6 separate regions of the Homo sapiens genome follow, and regions 1, 2, 4, 5 and 6 are each reported to be linked to region 3. The links are microRNA targets in miRTarBase. Many come from high-throughput screens and were not tested one by one. Region 3 holds a microRNA gene; each other region holds the end of a gene's coding sequence.

Region 1 (4,060 bases), not on the chromosome of region 3:
CAGTGGCTCACACCTGTAATCCCAACACTTTGGGAAGTCGAGGAGGGTGGATCACAAGGTCGGGAGTTCAAGACCAGCCTGGCCAATATTGTGAAACCCCGTCTCTAGTAAAAATACAAAAATTAGCCAGGCATGGTGGCACGTGCTTGTAGTCTCAGCTACTTGGGAGACTGAGGCAGGAGAATCACTTGAACCGGGGAGGTGGAGATTGCAGTGAACTGAGATTGCGCCACTGCATTCCAGCCTCGGCGACAGAGTGAGACTCTGTCTCAAAATAAATAAACAAAAAATAAATAATTAAAAAAAGAATAAAATACAAATCTATTTAAAGAATAGATCTTTTTATGTAAAGATTAGTAGTGTAAAAAAAATTGGTATAAGTACCGTAGATGGTTTGACATTAGGAATTAGAGATTAGCATTTGAAAGATACTGACATGAGTTACAAGTATAATACCATATACATAGCGCTTTTAGCTCCAGTTTTTTTTTTTTTTTTTAAAGAGGTGGGGTGGGGATGGAGTAGGAAGAATGTGCTTTTAATAGTTCTAATAGAAAGTAAATTTTACGAACTCTATTAAGAAAAGAAGGATGATCTGCTGTGTTGCTGAATGTGATATTTTTGGCAGCATGTACTGCTGATATGCAGCATTCTGGTAAATGACAATTATATACCTGAGTCTACTGTTGTAGGCCAGTTTATTTTGGTTTTATATAGGTAATAATCTAAAGTGAATTGAGGAGACATTGTAATTCATTCATTCATTCTTTTTTTTTTCTTTTTAGTGCTGTAATTACAACAATTAACCATGATGAAGTTTGGTTTAAGAGGCCTGATGGAAGCAAATCTAAGCTTTACATTTCACAGCTACAGAAAGGAAAATATTCAATTAAACATTCATAATCATGATTTAAGTGTTATCTAAATTTACCTTATTAGTGTTACCAAATGTAAGTGCCATGAGAGTAAAAAAATGTATTCAATAACTTAATATTCTCACTGAATCATGAGAGAATGTGTATTTGTAGGTAGTACTCTAAATAGATCTCATTGATATGTTATTAAAAGAAACAGTAATAAAAATTTTATCACGATCCTTACGTTGATTTGCCTCTTAGGTCCGATGACCAATAGGTATTCTGTATATGGTAGGGGTTTCTTTCTAAACATTTTTCTTTGGTTTTAAAAAAAGTTATGCAAATTTGTCTTATCTTTAGTAAACTATGACTACATTTATCTGCAATTTTTAAAATTTTCCATATCTTTGTCATTCATTGTGTGTTTGTAAATAAGGCCGATAGAATGTTTCCTATAAATGGTTTGTACTAGTACATTAGTGTTAAACCAGAACTGAAATTTAAACATATATATATATGAGGATGTATATATGGCATCATCAGCTTATTTAGAACTGATGGCCATACCTTACAATCTTGTTTTACCCAAAATTAAGCTATTGGGGTTGAAAGCTAAAAGGAGCACTTTTGTAGAATAGCAACTTTTCTTTTCCTCTTTCTTGATTGTATGGTGGGGTGGTGACCTATTTTTACAAATTATACCTAATGAGTAAAATTAGTGTAAAGTGATAACATGCTTCTACCTGTATTTCTAGTGACCCTTTAGCGGCAGGTATTTATACCTGGTATTTATGATGCAGTATATAAGTGGTGAACAATAACTGACAGTATTGTGCTTGCTGTACATGTCTGGTCTTTTGAAACAGATTTTAGTAAGCATTTTCCAGAGGTAAAACTGTGTCCTTATTCTAATTTTATTCCTAGGGCAAAGTAGACAGGGATTATTTCCTTGAATCTATTTCCAAATTAATATTTTTTTCTTTGGTATTTCTACACTTTAAGGCCATTTGGTGCAATTTAGAAAGTGTTGGCCTCCCTTCCGCTAGCCACATTCAAAATTAACTTCCAAAACCTCAGGAACAGTACAAAGAATTGAAACCCTCAATATGGCAGCACAGCCGGCTGTAGTGTATATTTAGGGTACACCAAATCAGGTATTCCTGGTGGTCTTGTGCACTTTAATTTCTGTTACAATGAGTTAAGAGGATGAGGAAGAAATCTACTTATTAACACTTACTGCAGAAATGTCTGCATTATTCCGTTTGTTTTCTTATTATTTTACCTCTCCAAACATCTTCCTGTGCAGATCACTACTTCATAGTTGCCAAATTTTAAAACACTTAACTGCTGAAATTCAGTGTCAGCAAAGTGATATTACGTTGTTCTGTTTCTAATTAACCTTAGCAAATGTACATAATGTCAAAACCCAATAGTATTTGACAGTACTTATGTATACAATGTTTGATAAGCATTTTTAATAAGATTTGTATTTTTAAATTTAGTATATAATAAAAAGATGTGTTTCAGTGTGATTTGTAGTGTCTTGGATTACTTATGTGTATTTAGTTCTTTTTATAACCTATCCACTTGTAAGAAAGATTTGAATTGGTTTACGTTAATAGATATGGAGTAGGCTGGGTGCAGTGGCTCATACCTGTAACCTCAGCACTTTCTGGGGTATATTTAGATGTTCAAGACAGCTAAGTTATACTTAATTTTAAAATATATGCATATGTGTTGTACTTTGATTAAAAGGTACTGTATAAGTTAATGAAATTCTAAATAGAAAATCTTTATTTTTTTATTTTTATTTTTTGAGATGGAGTCTTGCTCTGTCACCCAGGCTGGAGTGCAGTGGCACGATCTTGGCTCACTGCAACATCTGCCTCCCAGGCTCAAGTGATTCTCCTGCCTCAGCCTCCTGAGTAGCTGGGATTACAGGTGTGCACCATCACACCTGGCTAATTTGTATATTTTTAGTAGAGACAGGTTTTTGCCATGTTGGCCAGGCTGGTCTCAAACTCCTGACCTCAGGTGATCCGCACACCTTGGCCTCCCAAAGTGCTGGGATTATAGGCATGAGCCATCACACCTGGCCTAGGAAATCTTTATTTTAAAACTATGATTTAGTACATTTATTTTCAAAACTTTAGTATTTATATCTTATGTAGTATTCTACCATAATATTAAGATTCATAAAAGCATATGCTTATCTATGACTAAAATGCTATAAAATATATTGTCTTATTGGCAGTTTGCCATTAGTTGTCTGGTCATAAAGTTTAATTTAGGAAAATTATTAGAAACTCCAAAATGTGATGTAGTGGCTGCTGCTGCTCCTGTGTTTATGATCAGCTTCTGTCTCAGGATCATTTCTTGACCTTTATTGTCACAGCTCCTAGTTTTTCATGTTCAATCCATCCCCTCCTTGCTGTTTCCCATTTTTTAAAAAGAGATACTATCTAAGTATCACTAATGCAATTCTTCAACTAATAATTATTGGCAAATAGTAATGGCACACTCCTGATTTGTCCCCTTTTTCACTGTTCATATTGGTGGGCTGGACACAGTACTTTTTTGCAGCCTTCTTCATGTAAAAGTTGTTCTGATGTATGCATTACTTGGAACACCAGTTGCAGAACCATGTATGCCTCATTAATAATTATTTAAAAAGAAGAAAAACTTCCAAAGATTCAGGAACAGTAGAAAGAATTGAACCTTTAATATGGCAGCACAACTGGCTGTATATGTGTGTGTGTATATATATATATATATATATATATATATATATATATATATATAACATTTTTTTTCCCATGACATAGCCTCAGGAGGTCCTGAGGACATGTGCCCCATATTTAGGGTACAACCAAATCACATATTTTTGATGGTCTTGTGCACTTTAATTTCTGTTATGATAAGAGTTAAGAAGATGAGGAAAAAATCTACTTAACACCTAGAGGAGAAGTTATCTGTTTTTTCTTTTTGTTTTTGGACCCAGTAAATCCAGTACAATAAAACTGAACTAAAATGAATTTCTCTTATAAGAAAATGGATATAGGATAGGCCGGGCGTGGTGTCTTAACGCCTGTAATCCCAGCACTTTGGGAGGCTGAGGCGGGCAGATCACAAGGTCAAGAGATTGAGACCATCCTGGCCAACATGGTGAAACCCTGTCTCTATTAAAAATACAAAAATTACCT
Region 2 (4,060 bases), not on the chromosome of region 3:
GTCATGGAGTGGCACCCTGGGCACTACTGACAGAGCAAATAATCCTGAACACACATCTACTACCCTTTGCCACAGTGCAAAATGAGATTATGGTGTCAGTACTTCTGATATTCACCTGATGAAACTGTCCTTACATTGATACTTGTTTACATTTAGAAAACAATGGAGCTTAAAAAAAAATAGCACTGAAGTTACAAATGTAAAACATACCCAATACAAAACCTGGTCACTGTGATCACTATAAATTCCAAACGCTTTTCCTCACTCTTATTCTTTTCTTGTAAAGAGGCTATTCCAATCCCCTGCAGTTTCTGTTATCAAAGGCAAGATATACAAGGACAGTAGGTCCTGTCTGTTCTCTTCAACATGGCACATACAGCACCTTGGACAGTGCCTGATACAGGACATTGCTCAATAAATACATCAGCAATGAAGAAAAAAGAAATAAAAGAAAAGCCAGTTTGGGGACTGGAATGAGAGGTAGGAGTGAGGAACAGAAAATAAAACAAATATAATTGAAATAATACTGGGAAAACATCACTCATGTTGTCAAATCAGAAAAAAATTTAAGCTGAGAACAATGCATTATTTTTCTTTAATACTTTACCAAAGGGTGAACAGCCATATCTCAGGCTGTATGCAACATTAAATTCCAAAATAATTTCTAGTAATTTAAAAATAGCATTGAAGAATAATTTTTTGAAGTACAATATTTTGTTTTTTGAGAGGAAGTCTCCCTCTTGTCCTCCAGGCTGGAGTGCAATGGCGCAATCTCAGCTCACTGCAACCTCCGCCTCCCGGGTTCAAGCGATTCTCCTGCCTCAGCCTCCCGAGTAGCTGGGATTACAGACATGCGCCACCATGCCCAGCTGATTTTTGTATTTTAGTAGAGATGGGTTTTCACCATGTTGGCCAGGCTGGTCTTGAACTCCTGACCTCAAGTGGTCTTCCTGCCTCAGCCTCCCAAAGTGCTGAGATTAACAGGCGTGACCCACCGTGCCTGGCCTGAAGTACAATTTTTTAACTTGCTACTATTATGTAAAAAAACACTAAGTTGGAAAAAATTTATATAATGAATTCATTTGGGTAAAAATTTATACATAAAAAATTTCTGCAAGAATGTAAACTATTAATCATTTTCCCTGGGAAGAACTGAGGGGCCTAATGCAGAAAGGGAGCTTTTATTAGTTACTTATATGCTTTTGTACTATTTGAATTTTTTGTTTTTACAATCAATATGTACATTTTATAATAAAACTCATTTAAAGGGAAAATGTCCAGTTTGTATTTGTGAAACACTCAGGTAGAAACTTAGAAATTGCAATCTCTTATAATATATTGATTGTTGATAATATTAAAGTTTGCGTTTTCTGTTTTATAGAGAGCCAGGGTCTTGCTATGTTGCTCAGGCATGAACTCCTGGGCTCAAGCAATCCTCCCGCCTTGGCATCCCAAAGTGCTAGGATTACAGGCATGTACCGCTATGTCTGGCCTGCACCACCATGCCTGGCCTGCACTTGCTATTTATTCTCTCTTTACTAAAATAAGAAAGTGGGAAATTAAATAGATTATGACAAAAGAAAGTGAAATAGACTAGGACAAAAGAAAAATGAAACAATATAGATCAGTCTCCTCCAATTCAGGAAAAAATACTATTACATTCAAGAAACGAAAATTTTCCAAAAGCTCAAATCATAAACAGCTATCTTCTAGTTTCTGTCATATCTTTACTATCATTGAACATGTATTCAAATTTAGGGTTTTAAGGTCTCCACAAAAGATAACTATTATATATTTAGTGCAACCAGGTACAAGACAGGCTCAAAAACAAACAAAACTGAATTGCTCATTCTAATAATAATCTAGAGAATCCTTCCACATAAATTTAAAAAATGATCTCAATAGGGACATCCTAAGTAAAGGAATATCAGAGAATGTTATTACAGGTGGGCTGGCCATAAACTTGTAAAATGTAATTTTTTAGCTCTTTTTTTTTTTTGAGATGGAGTCTAGCTCTGTCACCCAGGCTGAAGTGCAGTGGCGCGACCTCGGGTTCATTGTATCCTCCACCTCCCGCGTTCAAGCAATTCTCCTGCCTCAGCCTCTTGAGTAGCTGGGGCTACAACAGGCATGCGCCACTATGCCTGGCTAATTTTTTATATTTTTAGTAGAGACGGGGTTTCGCCATGTTGGCCAGGCTGGTCTTGAACTCCTGACCTCAAGTGATCTGCCCTCCTCGGCCTCCGAAAAGTGCTGGGATTACAGGCATGAGCCACCATGCCTGGCCACTGGTTATTTTTTACTGTTGACATACTTAATTACAAAATAATAACTTTAAAAGGTATGGTTCTTCAATAATGACACATATATCAGAAGGTAATAATACTAAAAAAAAGATCTGTGAAAAAACTTTCAAAATAAAAAAATTAAATATAATTTTAAAAAATGACGTAGAAAAACTGGATTTATCATGTGTAACATGTTTTGAAATATCTATACATTGTGGAATGGCTCAATATAGCTAATTAACGTGCATTACCTTATGTGCTTTTTTGGAAAAACCACTTAAAATTTACTCAGTGACTTTCAAAATACATTGTTGTTAATTACAGTCACCAAGCTGTACAACAGATCTCTTGAACTCAGTTGCCTTGTCTAACTGAAATTTTGTAAATTTTGACCAATATCTCCTCAATCCTCCACTGCCCCACCAGCCCTTGATAACCACCATTCTATTCTCTCCTTCTATGAGTTCAACTTAAGATTCCACAGTGAGATTATGCAGCATTTGTCTTTCTAAGCCTGGCTTATTTTACTTAACATGTCCTCCAGGTTGTCACAGATGAAAGGATTTCCTTGTTTTTAAGCATTAAATACTGTTCCATCAATACCATTTTTAATATATTTAAATTATATCCATTTTGGAAGTAGTAACAGCATGCTTTGATGGTGGCTCAGTAGAAGACATTGTATCAGAAATCCACAAATTAAGCAACTGTTTCTTATGAAGTGCATCATTTTCCTGGTTGGCCTGTTCATCCAGTGACTTTCTTATACAATTCTTTAATTCTTCGATTCCTTCTCCAGTAACTGCAGATATGGGGATGATATGTTGGAACTCTACAGTCCTCTCTGGAATCATGTTTTTTTCAAATAAATGCAGAAAATCTAAAAGAAAGAGCACAAACAAAGCTGATTTCCATTGTTTTCGAAAGTTAGTTAAAACCATGTTAATGGTTTGATTTGTGAAGCAGGGAACCAACACCAGCATTTTTCATGCCTTTTTTCACCTTTTCTAATAAGTTCTCAGAGCCTTTGGATTTTACCATTGATTATGGTAAGGTTCTTGGCACATAACATACTTGTTAGATAAATATATTTTAAACCAAACTAAGTATGAGTAGAAGATGAATCACAAAAATGACTTACTTAAGGAAGTAATAAATTTTGTGTGTGTGGGGGGGGTTAAATAAGGCAAGGCAGCATTGATTCTCTGAAAGATACTTTCTGTAAAAATAATAACATCATTTATGATTTGAGACATTCTACTTGGCCTCAGTACACTGGAGACCTTTAACTTCCCCAAAGTATAGGTTTATCATCAATGATGCTAGGATCCATACAAAAACTGAAGAGGGATTATAGAGAATTCAAGGGAAGATAATTTCAGATGAGTCCAATCTATCACCCCACAAGGGCTAACAATTGTTATATTACTTTTACCTCTTCCCTGTCACCATGGCATACTGATTGGCTGGGGAGATGGCATACTGATTAGATGGATTAACTGATATGAACTAGAAAGGCTGGACTGAAACAGATTGGTGGAGAAGACAACATGGAGCTTACTTTCTGAGATTCAAAAGCCCCGAAGAAAGTCCAGAGAGGATAACTCAGGATTATCACTAAAGGGCCTATATTTTATTTCACGATAGGTCAGAACAGCTACAGACTCCTGAGTCACCCTCACTTTCGGTATTTCCTCTGAAAATTCCCTTCTCTGCAAGATCAACTAGCAAAAAGAACTAATGACCATACAAAGCAAATGTCATTAGGAATG
Region 3 (3,000 bases):
CGCTCCATATTGATTCTTAAAGCAAATAAGAAGAAAAAGGAAAAAAAAGCTAAGAATGGTAGGTAAGATAAAAGAATTGTTAAACTTCACCTCTAACCTGAAATCTTGGACCTCGCACACACAAAATCAAGATTTTTTTACACCCTATTCCTCAACAGAAAATATTCTGCAAAGGAGAGAAAATTTCGAAGAGTGGAAAGTAGAGGAAACACAGTAAGTACAGTAAAGAGAAAGGATTCGAAATTCATTTGCCAAGAACAAAAAAAATGAAACTTAAATTGCATAGGAGCTCTTACACACAAATGCATTGGCATTTCCCAAATTAAATTGCATGAGAGCAACAATACAGGCCATTTCTATATAGCACCCACTTACGAGCTCTAATTCCAGAACACACACCGATATGACATAGTGTTGCAATCAATGTATTAGGAGGCAAAGAAAATGGTTGGGCTACTGGACGTCTTCGACCAGCTCATTCAAATACCTTTAAAATTAATTAAGGGGCAGGGAACTAGAGAGAGAGGAAGAAAAAAAAAATGGAAGAATAAAGGCGCACCGAGTAGAAAAGATTAAAGGGAACGTGGAAGGCCGGGGCTGCCGAAACTAACCTGTGCCATCGCTGGCGGACGCCGAGAGGGCCGGAGATGAGAGTTTAGGCCGCTTGGCTGAAGGCGGCCCCGGTTCCACCACATTCTCGGCCATTTTTAATTCTTTCGGAGATACAAGCGAGGAAAACCAGAATCCTCAGGAAATCTCTTCTTCGGCCCGGGGTCCCCGCGCCGCACCCAGGGGTGGGCTGGGGGGCTCCGACGGCACCCGAGGGGGTGGGGGAAGTTCCTTTTTCTCTTCGCCGGGTCGCAGTGGCTGGAGAGGGATGCGGACTCGATAGAAAAGGTAAGGGCAAGTGCGAGGGGCCGGGCCTGGGCCCAAGCCCGGAGGAGGGCACAAGAGCACAAATTCGCCGAGCGCGTCCGCTGCGGCGAATTCCCGAGAACTCGCGGCTCTAGAGGCGCAGTCCCCGGCCCGCCACGGCCGGCCCCTGCCCAGCCGAGGTCTCTCGGAGCTCCGCCGCCGCCATCAACCTCTTCCTCCTCGGCGCTGTCCTCCTCCTTCTCATCGCCACAAGGAGGCGGGGGCGAAAAGGGGGGAGAGGAGGAGGCGACAAGAGACACTCACCTCCTCCCGGTGCCCCCTCCCGGGCCTGCGCCCCCACCCTCCGAACCCTCCTCCTGCCGCCGCGCTCCGCGCCGCCGCCGCCGCACCGGCCCCTAATGGCCGCAGAGAACTCGCCCGAGCCGAGAGCCAGGCTGGCGCCGCCGCCTCACATCGCGCGGCGGCCGGCGGAGGCGCGGCAAGGACGCCGGGAGCGGAGCTGGCCGGACCAGAGGGCCGAGGGGGCCGGGCCGAGCAGCGCCGCCCGCACGCCCGCGCCGACGCGGAGCCCACCGAGGAGGCCCCGCTCCGGCGGCGGCGCAGGCGGCCCCTCCTCGCGCCGCGCTCCCCTCCTTCGCCTTCCTTTCCCGCGGAAAATAAATAAATACGGCCGCTGCTACGGCCCCCACCGCCGGCGGCCAGGTGCTGGGAGCGCCCGCCCCCCGGGGCTCCGTTCGGGGCCGCCCGCGGCGGCGGGAGAAGACGCCGCGGGGCGCGGGGTTATGTAATGGTCCCCCCTAGGCGTCGACGCCGGCCCGGCTGCTGGACCGCGGTGGGGGTGTGTGCGGACGGGAGGGGGCTGGGGGTCGCCTCAGCCCGTGCGCCCCGGGCCCCCTGCCACTGTCTCGGCCCCTGCCGCCTCTCTCCGACCCGACTCCCCTCCGCACTCTCTGGCTCCCGCAGTTAGCACTCAGCCCGGCGTCCTGCTTGCCCACTCTCGCCCGCTCTCTCTCGCCCTCTCTCCCCCCCAGCCTAGCACACAAACAAGATGGCGGCTGTTGTTTCTTCCCTCTGCCGAATCCTCCTTACAGGCTAGCGGTAGCGGCGGCGGCCGGAAATGAGCCAAGGGGGGGTGGAAAAGGGGAGTGGCCGGGCCTCCGGAGGGGGGCGGGGCCTAGGCCCGAGCCGCTCACACAATGGGGGAAGTGGAGCCGGGGGCGGGGCCTGTCCCAATCACGGGATCCGCCCTAGGCCCCAACGCGGTTAGCGCTTCCGCAAACTCCCCCGGCGTCACCCTGTGGCTCCCTTTAAAGGGGAGGATTTTAAGAGTGGGGAGGATTTTAAGGGGGGAGGGGCGGGGGCGGACTCAGAATCTATTTTCAGTCGGTGGATAGTTACGAGGGAAGGTTCCTGCCTTTGGTCTCTGCGTAAGGGACCAGTGGGAACCGGGACGACGGAACCCCGGAGCTGCTCCGAGGAAGGCGCCAAGTCGCCACTCAGGTGGCCAAATGGGAGCGCCCGTAGGGCGGCCCTGCTCTTCGGCCCTTGGGTGGCGGGTCCCCCAAAACCCCGGTCGAATTCACCAGGCAGGGTGTACCCACTGCCGGCTGTTCCGGGCCAGATACCCAGTGCGTCCTCACTTCTCCATTGCCCTCCCAAAGGGAGCAGTTCACATCCAAAAAGCACGTTGATTACGAGTTGTTTTCATTTTCTCTGAATTTTCCTTTTCCTTTTTATGTATTATTTATTTATTTATTTTACAACGAGCATTATTACTCTGACCAGAAAACAAAATCACAGCAGTGGAAAGATGTTTCGGCACCAGACCCAAATTCATTTCTTGCCCTCCACGTGTGTCCATACGCCCTTACCAGGTAGCACTCTCACCGCAGAAGCCTTCAAGTATTTTCCTAAACATGGCTGGGACCTGAAGACATTTCTAGGGTTTGTCTTTTTTTTTTTTCTCGTCCGCTCCCAATAGAACAAGTTAGTAAAAGACCACGTCTAGCCATTGCCTTATCTAATGTAATTATGGGAAAAACAAAAATGTGGTAAAGGTAATGTAAGGATGGAAAAAAGCAAAAATGTAATGGTGAGAGGAAATGCTGGAATATAAAGTCTAGT
Region 4 (3,948 bases), not on the chromosome of region 3:
GGTTTTTAATAGGAGAGGAGCACTATTTCATTATGTTAAAATAATGTTTACAAAGAATTAGTAAGAATGCTGCAAGAAAATGCACATGCTATATAATATAATGTAAATATATACACATACAACTCATTTGATCTCACTTATTGTAAAAATATGCATTCCTAATAATGGCTTATCCTACTGAGTGACTTATTAAATGTCACAACAACGTTTTAAAGTAGGTACTCTTACCTCCATTTTGCAGATAGAGGTTAGGTAATTTTCCCAAGGTCACACAGCTAGTAAAGGACAGAGTTCATATTTGAAACCCAGTCTGTCAGGCTCTATAGCCCCTACTCTTAATCACTATATTATGCAGGGAGAAATCCATCAACATATTGTCTTTGGGTGGTGGTTTATTTTCTTCTTTATTCTCTAGGATTTTCTATTTGGATATACTCTAGGAGTTAAATGATAAACTTTTGAATAGGGAAGAAGGTGGGGTGGTGAAATTTGAAGGCCAAACATATGCTTTCAAACAAAAGAATTCACTCCATTTCCTTTTCCACTTTTCTACATTTTCCAGAAGAACTGATGACCACCCCAATTTTACAGCCCACTGAGGCCCTGTCCCCAGAAGATGGAGCCAGCACAGCACTCATTGCAGGTAATAGACTCTGAGCCAACTCCAAGGGACCTTCTGGATCAAGGGCATCTCTCTCCAGAGGGAGCCTGACCAAATCCATTAATGGGCTCACTCTGGCTTGTAAGTTATATTACACACACACACACACACACACACACACACACACAGCCATAAAAGACTCGGAGGCTTCTGTCAGAGGCACTACCAGTAAATGACAGGTTGGGAGGTGGCCGCAAATAGATATGCATACGGACGTTACACTTGAGTACGTGGGTAGGGACGAGGATATATGTGGTTGGTTGAGTGGGTGAGGAAGAGGGGGAGGATCAGATAAACCACTTCCTGTTAGGATAAGCCATTTCCTGTTCCCTCCTTCCCGTTTCTTTAAGAATCAGGAACTGGTTTGGGAGGCAGTTCAGTTTTGTCAGAAATCAAAAGCATGTGTCCTTAGCTTAAGCACCAGGAGACTCCAGCTATTATGTGCCATGGAAATTGGGGTTGGTGGGGGAACATGGGTTTGGATGGAAGTGGACACTAGTTAATGAAAACAAGAGGATCTTTACGAAAACAGTGACTAAATCAGATGACTCCAGGAACTACTGAGACATCCTCAATCCTGAAACATCTCTACATTTTCCCTCTCCTTTCCAAGTTGTTATCACCGTTGTCTTCCTCACCCTGCTCTCGGTCGTGATCTTGATCTTCTTTTACCTGTACAAGAACAAAGGCAGCTACGTCACCTATGAACCTACAGAAGGTGAGCCCAGTGCCATCGTCCAGATGGAGAGTGACTTGGCCAAGGGCAGCGAGAAAGAGGAATATTTCATCTAATGACTCCCAGGCCCCAAGGAGCTTATTCCTGGCTCCATCGCTAACACGTTGACTGCTTATTATGGGAAAGTTTTCTCTGAAGCCAGGGAGAAGCATTGATTGATGTGGGCAAATCCAAGCTCCAGCCAGGTCGCAGTCCCAAATGCCGACATCACTGACTCCAGGGACCAGGGACATGGAGAAAGCTGTTTATGATATCTTTAACCAGGCCCTCTTACTAGAGCTGGTGTTTGTGACTGGCCAACAAGATGTGGCTATGCCAGGGGACATCTGAGTATGTGCCCAGTCATCTTTTTTCACAGGTTGAAGGGAGAGAAAAGATTTTGAGTTAAGGTCATTGGCTGCTCTACTCTGTCCCCTACCTGGTCACCTAGTGATAGCCCCAGTGGAGATACTGTCCATACAAGGTCTTCCCAGAGGCTGGATACCACAGTAAAAGGCCAGGCCAGGAGGGGTAGGAGACTATGGAGATCTTACCTCCTGATAAATGTGCTACACCCCCTAATCTGAGCCCTTCCTTTCCGTGTTCCCCAACAACCTCATGCTTACGTGATTTTTATTCAAATTAAAAATTTTCATTGCTACAGAAATCAGATTCTCATGTGCAAGAAGTAACTACATTTTGACTTATTTTTGCTTAAACATTTTTGACATTTTCTTTTCCCTATTTAACGCCTTTACATATGTTCTCTTCCAAGCAATAAGAACCCTAGGAAAGTTCTAGAAGTTTGCAGAACTATCTCAGGGATTTGAGACAAAGATGGTGCAGGAAAGCTTGTTCCAGGGGAACATCATTAGAAACATACCCTGGGAGGGCCGGGTTCGGTGGCTCACGCCTGTGATCCCAGCACTTTGGGAGGCCGAGGCAGGCGGATCACAAGGTTAGGAGATCGAGACCATCCTGGCTAACACGGTGAAACCCCGTCTCTACTAAAAATATATAAAAAAAATAGCTGGGCGTGGTGGCGGGCGCCCATAGTCCCAGCTGCTTGGGAGGCTGAGGCAGGAGAATGGCTTGAACCCAGGAGGCGGAGCTTGCAGTGAGCTGAGATTGCACCACTATACTCCAGCCTGGGCAACAGAGTGAGACTCCGTCTCAAAAAAAAAAAAAAAAAAAAAAGTACCCTGGGAGATGAGTTGGTTCAAGCCTCCATCCTGGCAAGGGCCAGAATTTCCCAGAATCCCTTCTACATATATACAGAAGGAACCAGAAAAAATCAACCTACCACCTTTCCCAGTGTATCCTCAGAATCAAGCCAAGAAGCTTCTTGGATTTTAGTCTCAAGATAAGTTGTGTTTAAAAGGCACATTTTGGTATAAATTATTAGCTCATCAGATATTGTTCACTTTGGAATTAAAGCTAGATCTCCTTTGAAGTCTTAATGTATTGCCTCTGTTGTCCAAGCTCAAACCCAACCAAGTTAAGATCAAGAGCTGAGGAATCTGGCTGGGTGCAGTGACTCACTGCCTGTTATCCCAATACTTTGGGAGGCTGAGGCAGACAGATCACTTGAGGTCAGGAGTTTGAGACCAGCGTGGCCAACGCAGTGAAGCCGTCTCTACTAAAAGTACAGAAATGAACCAGGTGTTGTAGCAGGTGCCTGTAATCCCAGCTACTCAGGAGGCTGAGACAGGAGAATCACTTGAACCCGGGAGGTGGAGGTTGCAGTGAGCAGACACTGCCACTGCACTCCAGCCCGGGTGACAGAGGGAGACCCTGTCTCAAAAAATAAATAAAAGAGCTGAGGAATCTATCTTGGCAACCTAGATTCTATGAGTTTTCAGTATTTCTCCACATAGAACATTGGAGAAACTAAAGGTCATCCTCAACGTATACAAATTGCTATACCAGAACCTTTTCTTCAAGCCAAACTTTAGAGCAAGTTAGGAGAATCAATAGTTCCCTCATTTCTAAGTTTAGGTCCGAAATTCCAAAATTTGTAAGAGGTTGGAGTAAAATGATGAAAAGTTGAACATCTGGAATGGAATTCATGAAATGATCAAGTCTTAGGCTTGTACTCCTGCCTTTATTTCAAAGCGTCATCAAAGGAAACAGAGCAGCAGCAGCACCTAGCTGAATTCTAGATGGGATATAAATAAAATATATATAGAAGAAATCTAAAAACAAGCTAAGTAAAGAATCCTTGCAGTGAGGTGTAATGCAACTTCATCACTTTATTCAAATCTTCAAAATAGTCTTTATTCTACATTTTTAGTATAAAAATTCCACAAGTTAAGTGCACCACAGTGTAGAGAGAGACATACAACGCTGAACTTCCATAACAGTCAATGGTACAGTCAAACATCACATGTACAGAACACACAATTTAGATGAACTGAAATTATAAGATAAAATAAAATAAAATCCAATTTCAGAAAACAAAAATCAAAACATTAAGGATCCCTGAAATATTCTTAAACCCTAATGAGATTTCACTGGACTCAAGTCATTTTGTAGTGAGACATTCACAATATGACCCTATTAACCCAGTCTA
Region 5 (3,970 bases), not on the chromosome of region 3:
AGATGGGGTTTCACCATGTTGGCCAGGCTGGTCTCAAACTCGTAACCTCAAGTGATCTGCCTGACTCGGCCTCCCAAAGTGCTGGGATTACAGGCGTGAGCCACCGCACCCGCCTAATTTTTAAATGTTTTTTGGTGGAGACGGGGTCTCACTCTGTTGGCCAGGCTGGTCTCTAACGCCTGGCCTGGAGTAAGCCTACAGCCTCAGCTTCCCATATCACTGGGATTACAGGTGTGAGCGAGTATACCAGCCACCACACTGCTGTTTACCAGAGACTGGAGACACACGAGCACCTGGCCTGGGCACTGTGGGAGGTGGCTTTGGGGATGGTGCCTTTCTGGGTGGGTCCGGGATGCTCAGGAGTCCCTTTCTCCCTCATCGCCCAGGAGCAGCCAGGGCTTCCTGCATCTGAAGTTCGCGCGGACCCGTGAGAACCAGGTGGTGCTGGGCCAACACAGCGGGCCCTTCCCCAGCGTGCCCGAGCTCGTCCTCCACTACAGTTCACGCCCACTGCCGGTGCAGGGTGCCGAGCATCTGGCTCTGCTGTACCCCGTGGTCACGCAGACCCCCTGACAGTGACCCTCGGCCCCCTTTTGAGTCCTCGGGCCCAGAATCGTATCCCAAAGCCCTCCCATGGCCTAGAAAATAAATAAGTTATTGTTTGTCTTAGTGTCCTTTCTGGGCTACAGAGGGAAGTGGGATCGTTGACTCCCAGCGGGAAAGCCCTAAGCAGCCCTGGAGAGGGGGATAATGGGGTAATTGAAACCCTGGAGGAGGCCAGGCACGGTGGCTCACGCCTGTAATCCCAGCACTTTGGGAGGTTGAGGCAGGCAGATCACCTGAGGTTGGGAGTTCGAGACCATCCTGACCAACACGGAGAAACCGCGTCTCTACTAAAAATACAAAATTAACCGGGCGTGGTGGCGCATGCGTCTAATCCCAGATACTCGGGAGGCTGAGGCAGGAGAATCGTTTGAACCCAGGAGGCGGAGATTGCAGTGGGCTGAGATCGCACCATTACACTCCAGTCTGGGGAACAAGAGTGAAACGCCTCCATCTCAGAACAAACAAACATAAAAAACCCTCGAGGCCTTGAGGGCCAAGCACATCCCCAGCACTTTGTTTTGGGGACAGAGTTGGGATTGGAACCTGAATCTCCCATAGGGAGGGACCAGAACTCAGCAAGAGACAGAGCGTCGTGGAGCAGATTAAAAACCGCACTCCATAGAAACCGACAGATACAAAGATGGAGAAACTGAGGGGGGCCAGGCTCTCGGGCCAGCCCCGCTCCCTCCCCCCGGCAGCAGTGGCTTGATCTGCAGAAAGGACATCTGTCCCCATGGAAACAGCAGAAGTAGGGGAGGGGAGCTGGGCCTAGCTGGTGTCACTTCAAGGTGACAGGCCAGGCAGGCAGGAGACCTGGGGGGCTGGTAAACACCATGAATCTCCTGACCTCCCCTTCTTCTCCCCACCTCCAGGCCTGCCTGGGAGTGATGCCAGCTGCGGGGGGGGTCTTCCATGGCAGGGGACTGTTTGGAAGCCAGAGTACCACTTCTTCCTCCTTGGATTTGTCCCTATAAGGTGGGAGGGGGGCTTTGAGTTGCCACAAAGTCCCTTGGCCACAGTGGGCCTCTCCAGCCACCCCTGAGAGCTCTGGGACCCCAGATGACCCCTTAAGTCTTTTTGGTGCGTGTATGTGACAGGGTCTCACTCTACCACCTAGGCTGGAGGGCAGTGACATAATTAGAGCTCACTGCAACCTCAACCTCCAGGGCTGAAGTGGTCCTCCCCTCTCAGCCTCCCAAATATCTGAGACCAGAGACATCAGCTGCACCATCACGCCCGGCTAAATTTTGTATTTTTCGTAGAGACGGAGTTTCACCATGTTGGCCAGGCTGGTCTCGAACTCCTGACCTCAGGTGATCCGCCCACCTCGGCCTCCCAAAGTGTTGGGATTACAGGCGCAAGCCACCGCGTCTGGCCTTGTTTTTAAATTTTCTGTAGAAATGGAGTCTTCTTGCTCTATTGCCCAGGCTGGTCTCAAACTCTTGGCTTCAAGTGATCCTTCCACCGCAGCCTCCCAAAGTGCTGGGATTAGAGGCGTGAGCCACCGCACCCGATTTCTTCAGATCTTTTTAGCACTCCCAAATCGCCACAAACACCAGCTTTGCTTTTTCTTCACAAGCCTTTATTAGGTTCTTGGGGGAAAGTGGGAGCGAGATCCATCATTACAGAAATGAGGACGGGGTCTCAGGATGGGGCTGACAGGCTCCCAATCCTCCTGCTTTTTGTTTTTTTTGAGACGGAGTCTCACTCTGTCGCCCAGGCTGGAGTGCAGTGGCGCAATCTCGGCTCACTGCAACCTCCGCCTCCCAGGTTCAAGCCAGGCTGGTCTCAAACCCCTGACCTCAAGTGTTCCACCCGCCTCGGCTTCCCAAACTGCTGGGATTACAGGCGTGAGCCACCGTGTCTGGCCTCGATCCCCCCTTTTTTGTGTGTACCTATGGGTGGGGTCCTGTTGAGGTCTCCTGGGATCTCTCACTCCTCTCCCACTTTGGGGAACCCTTTTGGCCTCGGCTGCTGGGTGGGGCTTGGTCTAGGAGAGACCCTGACCATAGAGACGGGGTGGCCGGGCCTGGGGCTGGGGCAGGGTCTCGGGCTGGGGCAGGGTCTTGACGCCAGGTGCGGCTGGCGGGGGGCCGGTTGCGGGAAGGAGGTTGAATAAATGCTCTGGCCCCTCTGGTCCTTCCCCTCTCCAGAGCAGTCCTCACTCTTCTTTGGGGCCCCCCGGGGCCGGTATAGGACGTTGCTGTAGAATGCATTTCCTAGGATGGATGACACAGACCAAGAGGATCACTTAAGAGAGTCCTGCCCTCTCCAGCTGACCTCTGGGGGATCTGTCTCTTTTTTTTTTTTTCTGTGAGACGGAGTCTCACTCTGTCGCCCAGGCTGGAGTGCAGTGGCGCAATCTCGGCTCACTGCAAGCTTCGCCTCCTGGGTTCACGCCATTCTCCTGCCTCAGCCTCCCAACTAGCTGGGACTACAGGCTCCCGCCACCATGCCTGGCTGATTTTTTGTATTTTTAGTAGAGACGGGGTTTCACTGTTAGCCAGGATGGTCTTGATCTCCTGACCTCGTGATCCACCCGCCTCGGCCTCCCAAAGTGCTGGGATTACAGGCGTGAGCCACCGCGCCCGGCCTTTTTTTTTTTTTTTTTGAGACAGTCTTACTCTGTCACCTGGGCTGGAGTGTAGCAGCGGTGCGATCTCAGCTCACTGCAGTCTCCACCTCCCAGGTTCAAGTGATTCTCCTGCCTCAGTCTCCCTAGTAGCTGGGATTACAAGCCCCCGCTACTACGTCTGGCTAATTTTTTGTATTTTTAGCAGAGATGGGGTTTCACCACGTTGGCCAGGCTGGTCTCGAACTCCTGGCCTCGTGATTCGCCCGCCGTGGCCTCCCAAAATGCTGGGATTACATGCATGAGCCACTGCACCCGGCCAATTTTTTTTTTTTTTTAATTTCAAACTGTCTTTTTGTTTGTTTGTTTGTTTTTTGAGACAGGGTCTCTCTCTGTCACCCAGGCTGGAGTACAGTGGGGAAACTATAGCTCACTGCAGCCTCCGCCTCCCAGGTTCAAGCAATCCTCACACCTCAGCCTCCCAAGTAGCTGGGACCACAGGCGTGTGCCACCAAGCCAGGCTAATTTTTTTGTTGTTGTTGAGATGGAGTCTGGCTGTGTCGCCCAGGCTGGAGTGTAGTGAGGCAGTCTGGGCTCACTGCAATCTCTGCCTCCTGGGTTCCAGTGATTCTCCTGCCTCAACCTCCCAAGCAGCTGGGACTACAGGCACAGGCCACCACGCCTGGGTAATGTTTGTATTTTTAGTAGAGACTGGGTTTCACCATGTCGCCCAGGCTGGTCTCAAACTCCTGACCTCAAGTGATCCACCCGCCTCAGCCTCCCAAAGTGCTG
Region 6 (3,957 bases), not on the chromosome of region 3:
ACTGTGGCTGGAGAAAAGGGGGAGGGAAGGAAGTGGGGGGCTTTTCGGGCTTTTCCGAGGGTCCAGTGAACTTCTAACAGCCTTGCATCTCCAGGCTGCAGAGGAGGTGATGTGCTATACCAGCCTGCAGCTGCGGCCTCCTCAGGGTCGGATCCCCGGTCCTGGAACCCCCGTCAAGTACTCGGAGGTGGTGCTGGACTCTGAGCCAAAGTCCCAGGCCTCGGGCCCCGAGCCGGAGCTCTATGCCTCAGTATGTGCCCAGACCCGCAGGGCCCGGGCCTCCTTCCCGGATCAGGCCTATGCCAACAGCCAGCCTGCAGCCAGCTGAGATGGAGGGCCTGGCACAGCGGGGCGTGCACTGCCCCAGCCCCCCGTAGCAGGGGCATGACTGTTTCCCAACCAGCACCCAAAGACGGGCGCCATTGCCAAGTCACAGGATGTGATCTACCCCGGACTTCCTATCTGAGCTTCAAGGGAGACATCTCAGGGCAAAGCTTTCGTGATGGAGGAGGCAAAGACAGTAGCCCCCTCCTTATTTCTTTTTTCTATCTGTTCCTCTTAGCCCCCAAACTCCCAGGTTCTCACTTCCTTCTTCTGGAGTTTAACCAGATCCTCCCCACCCCCGCTCCCTCATAGTCTACCCCCACGCCTCAGTGTCTCCTCAGGCACAGGAAGTGGGCGGTGGGGGAGGGGTAAGGGCCTGACAGTGGGTGGGTGGGTATATTCCTCAGGAGTCCACAGACTGGAGTGGACCTGGAACTTAGAGACGGGAGGGACCCGAGCCTGGCTTTTGACCTAAGAACCCTAGCAGGAGAATACAGTCTCCATCCTGCTGTCTCTGTCCTGTCCCCAAGTTTTCAAATAAAACTTTCCAAAAAGTGTTTAGATTTTTACCTAGAAGGCTGAAGACTTGCAAAGGGCCCTGCAGATGGGGGTGTGAGCTTTGCTGTCTGCACGGAGCTCTTTCTGGGGGTGCCTAGCTGGGGATGAGGGGCCAAGAGGGGCTGCGGCATCAACAGTGCAGAGGTGGGCACCGGGGTGGAGGGCCAGAGCCCAGCTCCTCAGCTGCTGTTGCTGCTGCTAGAACACCCCTGGGATCTGCACTCAGAGCCACTGCATTCCCCCTGGGGCTGCAAGCTCACAGTCCTGAGCTACTCTCCCCTTGACCTCTATAACTGCCATCACCTCCACAACCTGCCAGCCTGGTTCCTTCATCAAGTCCTCCAATCTGACCTCCGTCTGTCCGCTATGAGTCCCACCTATACCCCTGTTTTGACATCAGTAGCCTTATCTGCACTTAGTCATCGTATACCCCTAGAGGCCTTCTCCTTACCCCATCACTATGGCAGCGGTCCATCTCCACTCACTCTCTCCCACTCTGGCCTCCCAAAGTGCTGGGATTACAGGCATGAGCCACCGTGCCTGGCCTTCACTCTCTCAGTTGTCACCTGCAGTCTTGGCAACAGTTTTGCTTGTCACCACTTTCATTTTAATCCCCATCTAATTTGTCCTGCCTGTCCACCCATCACCTGCTGATTCTTAACCCCAGCCTCCTACCCCATATAGCATGCTACATCAGCCAGTTGGCACAGAGATTAGGACTCTGGGCTCAGGAGCCGGACTGCCTGCATTCAAATTCCATGTCTACCACTTACCAGCTGTGTGTTCTTGGGCAACTGTGCCTCGGTTTCTGAATCTGTAAGATTGAGAGGATATTAACGGTGTTTACTTCAAAAAAAGGTGGTTGTGAGGCTGAATGAGTTACCATTTGTAAAGCACTTAGACAATAAATGCTCAATAATGCTAGGCATTATTAAAATAAGAGAAATACAGGATCCTCTATGGGAGCTCATAGGTGAAGTGACTTCTAGGTAGAGACATGACACATAGTAGGAATCTGCCAGGAGAAGCGAAGGACAGAAAATGCTCCAAGGCAAAGGGAACCACAGGCAAAGGAGAGGCTTATTCAGAGGACCTGGCAGAAGTGCATTAGGCACAGCGGAGGGTAGAGTGAGATGGGGGCAATGGTAAGATGAGGCTGGAGGGGCAGACAGAGCCAGATCACACTGCGCCCATAAGTCATGCCAAGGAGCTTGGGCTTTATCCTGCAGGGGAGGTGAAAGGGAGTCACTGAAAGTTTTAAGCGAGGGATGAACACAGTGAGTTAAAGGCTCTAACTCCACTGGCTGCTGTGCTGATCTAGTGGTCAGCAGTCTGGAGTCAGGCGGCGCCTTTCAAAGGCTATTGCAAGATTTGAGTGAGAGGGGATGGCGGCAGTAGCGGTAGGGATGCAGAGGAGGGATGGATTACAAAGAGATGTTTAGGGTTTTTTTTTTTTTTAAAGGCCCCACCTATCACATCTTCCAGATTTCTGGTTAGAGCCTGTAACACCCCCCAACCCAAATCCTCATCATCATAATACAGCATAGCTCCAAGTTGGTTTCAGCTCATCACCTTCCTCACCTGGCAATCTCTCTCTCTCTCTCTCTCTCTCTCTCTCTCTCTCTCACAAACACACACACACCCTCCACCCCTTAAGCCCATCTGTGATCCATCTGTCTAGCAAAAGCTCCAACCTGTCAAACCTCTTCTAGGATATTTCAAGGTCTAGACCATCTCCCCAGGGCCTCTGTAGAGGCGGGCCGCGCTTGACAGATCTTTCTGAGGCTTGAGGGGCTGAAGAAAGGAGAAGCTGAGGCTTTCACTTCCAAGCTTCTCTTCTTCCCACTTGGAGTGCCACAGGAAGCCACAGAGGAGGAACCCGTGCGCCTGATTCCTGCCTGGTGGTCCCAATTTGAAAGGGACCACCCTTCCCTTAAGCCCACCCCCCTACAGACCCCACAAATGCCCCTGGGTCCCTGGACCTCTGAGGACCCCACCCTGGGCCTCCCCAGGAGAGGCCCAGGTCGCGGTTAAGGGCAGGTAGCTGGGGATGCGGAGGAGGGAGGGAGGGAGGCTTCGGGGGCGGACACCGGATGCGGGGAACCACCGGCAGCGGGATGTGGGGTTCTGAGGGCTGCGGTGCTTCTGAAGATGGCTCAGCGTCGCGCCAGGTGGACGTGAGAGCTTTACCCTGGAGGAGGCGGGGGTTGGAGTCCCGCCTACCCACTGGGACAAGCCAAGGGGTCAAACGCCCCCAACCCAGCCCGCAGATCTCCTCGAAGCACCCGGTTCTCCTGGCCCGCCCAGACCCACGGCGCTCGCCGCCTTCGCCCGCTTAGGACTGAGTCCGCAGCGCCGCCGCCTGGCGAGGGGCGGAGTTGCCACCACTTCTGCGCAGGCGGGATGCAGCCTGGCCCGCGGCATCCCGGGAGTTGTAGTCTCGACGCTTCGGGGCCACCCCAGGGTCTGGTCCCTGACGACGCGCAGTGAGGGCCCCGCCGCTACCCCAGCAGTCGCCTCCCAAGTTCGCGGAACGCAGCTGACCGGCTCCCTCTGGACTGGGTGACATGACTGCTCCCAAGCAGTCGTTTGTAAACTGAGTTTCTGTAAAACAATTTTATTTTTCATATGTGACTGTAGCGGGGTATGATTTGAACTTTGTTTTCCGTCCCCCAGCCCGGATTCTCTGTCTTCTCCTGTACAGCCGTTCCGTTTTCTTACCTCGTCTCCGTCACCGAGGCCCTCAGCCCTGAACACAAGGACTGGGCAGTTTCCCTATTGATTCCTGAACCTGGAACTTAAGACATCTTCCGAGGGGCCCCCCCTTGCCACACCCTCTAGCTGATCGACTCACAAATACCTGTGATTTCTCTCCCCGTCTCCACCTCCAGGTACTTCCCTAGTGGACTCCTTTCCCTCACCGGCGTAGCATTCCAGCCAGAAGGAGTGCCCGTCCTAGCGCCCCGTTCCCAGGGACAGACCCTCAGGGGGAGCTCCTAGGGCCCCAGCTGTCCCTCCTCTTTCTTAAAGCCTAGCTAGGAGGATAGGGACACATTGAAAACGGAAGAGGGAGGG

What was found. Region 3 holds the annotated microRNA hsa-miR-1281 (UCGCCUCCUCCUCUCCC, at 1,149-1,165, opposite strand). A microRNA usually pairs through its seed, bases 2 to 8, with sites in the 3' UTR of a target mRNA and lowers its output. Matches are read on the target gene's strand: a 7mer-m8 pairs with bases 2 to 8, a 7mer-A1 pairs with bases 2 to 7 and ends in A, and an 8mer does both.
Region 1: the mRNA of BRMS1L is a reported target of hsa-miR-1281. The part of its 3' UTR that is shown has no 7-base or 8-base seed match.
Region 2: the mRNA of GTPBP10 is a reported target of hsa-miR-1281. Seed matches in the 3' UTR shown: 7mer-m8 at 792-798.
Region 4: miRTarBase lists SMAGP as a target of hsa-miR-1281. Seed matches in the 3' UTR shown: 7mer-m8 at 2,478-2,484.
Region 5: the mRNA of TMIGD2 is a reported target of hsa-miR-1281. Seed matches in the 3' UTR shown: 7mer-m8 at 2,367-2,373.
Region 6: the mRNA of SIT1 is a reported target of hsa-miR-1281. The part of its 3' UTR that is shown has no 7-base or 8-base seed match.

What each region holds. Positions count from the first base shown.
Region 1 is chr14:35,869,575-35,873,634 of GRCh38, forward strand. It overlaps BRMS1L (BRMS1 like transcriptional repressor), which reads left to right. Exons shown (of 10, transcript NM_032352.4): 10 at 786-2,389. The coding sequence ends at 903. Among named protein-coding and RNA genes, the nearest start is that of BRMS1L, 45 kb to the left of the region's middle.
Region 2 is chr7:90,384,000-90,388,059 of GRCh38, reverse strand. It overlaps GTPBP10 (GTP binding protein 10), which reads right to left. Exons shown (of 10, transcript NM_033107.4): 10 at 1-3,168. The coding sequence ends at 2,906. Among named protein-coding and RNA genes, the nearest start is that of CLDN12, 17 kb to the left of the region's middle.
Region 3 is chr22:41,090,710-41,093,709 of GRCh38, reverse strand. MIR1281 (microRNA 1281) reads right to left here and starts at 1,197; the gene lies at 1,144-1,197. EP300 (EP300 lysine acetyltransferase) reads right to left here and starts at 1,118. Exons shown (of 31, transcript NM_001429.4): 1 at 612-1,118. The coding sequence starts at 705. RefSeq lists an enhancer at 428-667 and silencers at 778-877, 1,058-1,827, 1,928-2,217.
Region 4 is chr12:51,243,446-51,247,393 of GRCh38, reverse strand. It overlaps SMAGP (small cell adhesion glycoprotein), which reads left to right. Exons shown (of 4, transcript NM_001031628.2): 3 at 563-643; 4 at 1,275-2,836. The coding sequence ends at 1,453. DAZAP2 (DAZ associated protein 2) reads right to left here. Exons shown (of 4, transcript NM_014764.4): 4 at 3,461-3,948. Among named protein-coding and RNA genes, the nearest start is that of DAZAP2, 6.6 kb to the right of the region's middle.
Region 5 is chr19:4,290,061-4,294,030 of GRCh38, forward strand. TMIGD2 (transmembrane and immunoglobulin domain containing 2) reads right to left here. Exons shown (of 5, transcript NM_001169126.2): 5 at 2,167-2,825. The coding sequence ends at 2,539. SHD (Src homology 2 domain containing transforming protein D) reads left to right here. Exons shown (of 6, transcript NM_020209.4): 6 at 387-662. The coding sequence ends at 573. Among named protein-coding and RNA genes, the nearest start is that of TMIGD2, 10 kb to the right of the region's middle.
Region 6 is chr9:35,646,219-35,650,175 of GRCh38, reverse strand. SIT1 (signaling threshold regulating transmembrane adaptor 1) reads left to right here. Exons shown (of 5, transcript NM_014450.3): 5 at 95-881. The coding sequence ends at 328. It overlaps LOC101926948 (a long non-coding RNA gene), which reads right to left and starts at 3,906. Exons shown (of 2, transcript NR_135130.1): 1 at 3,743-3,906; 2 at 2,700-3,486. It also overlaps a transcript of CD72 not described here. RefSeq lists enhancers at 445-494, 3,355-3,734.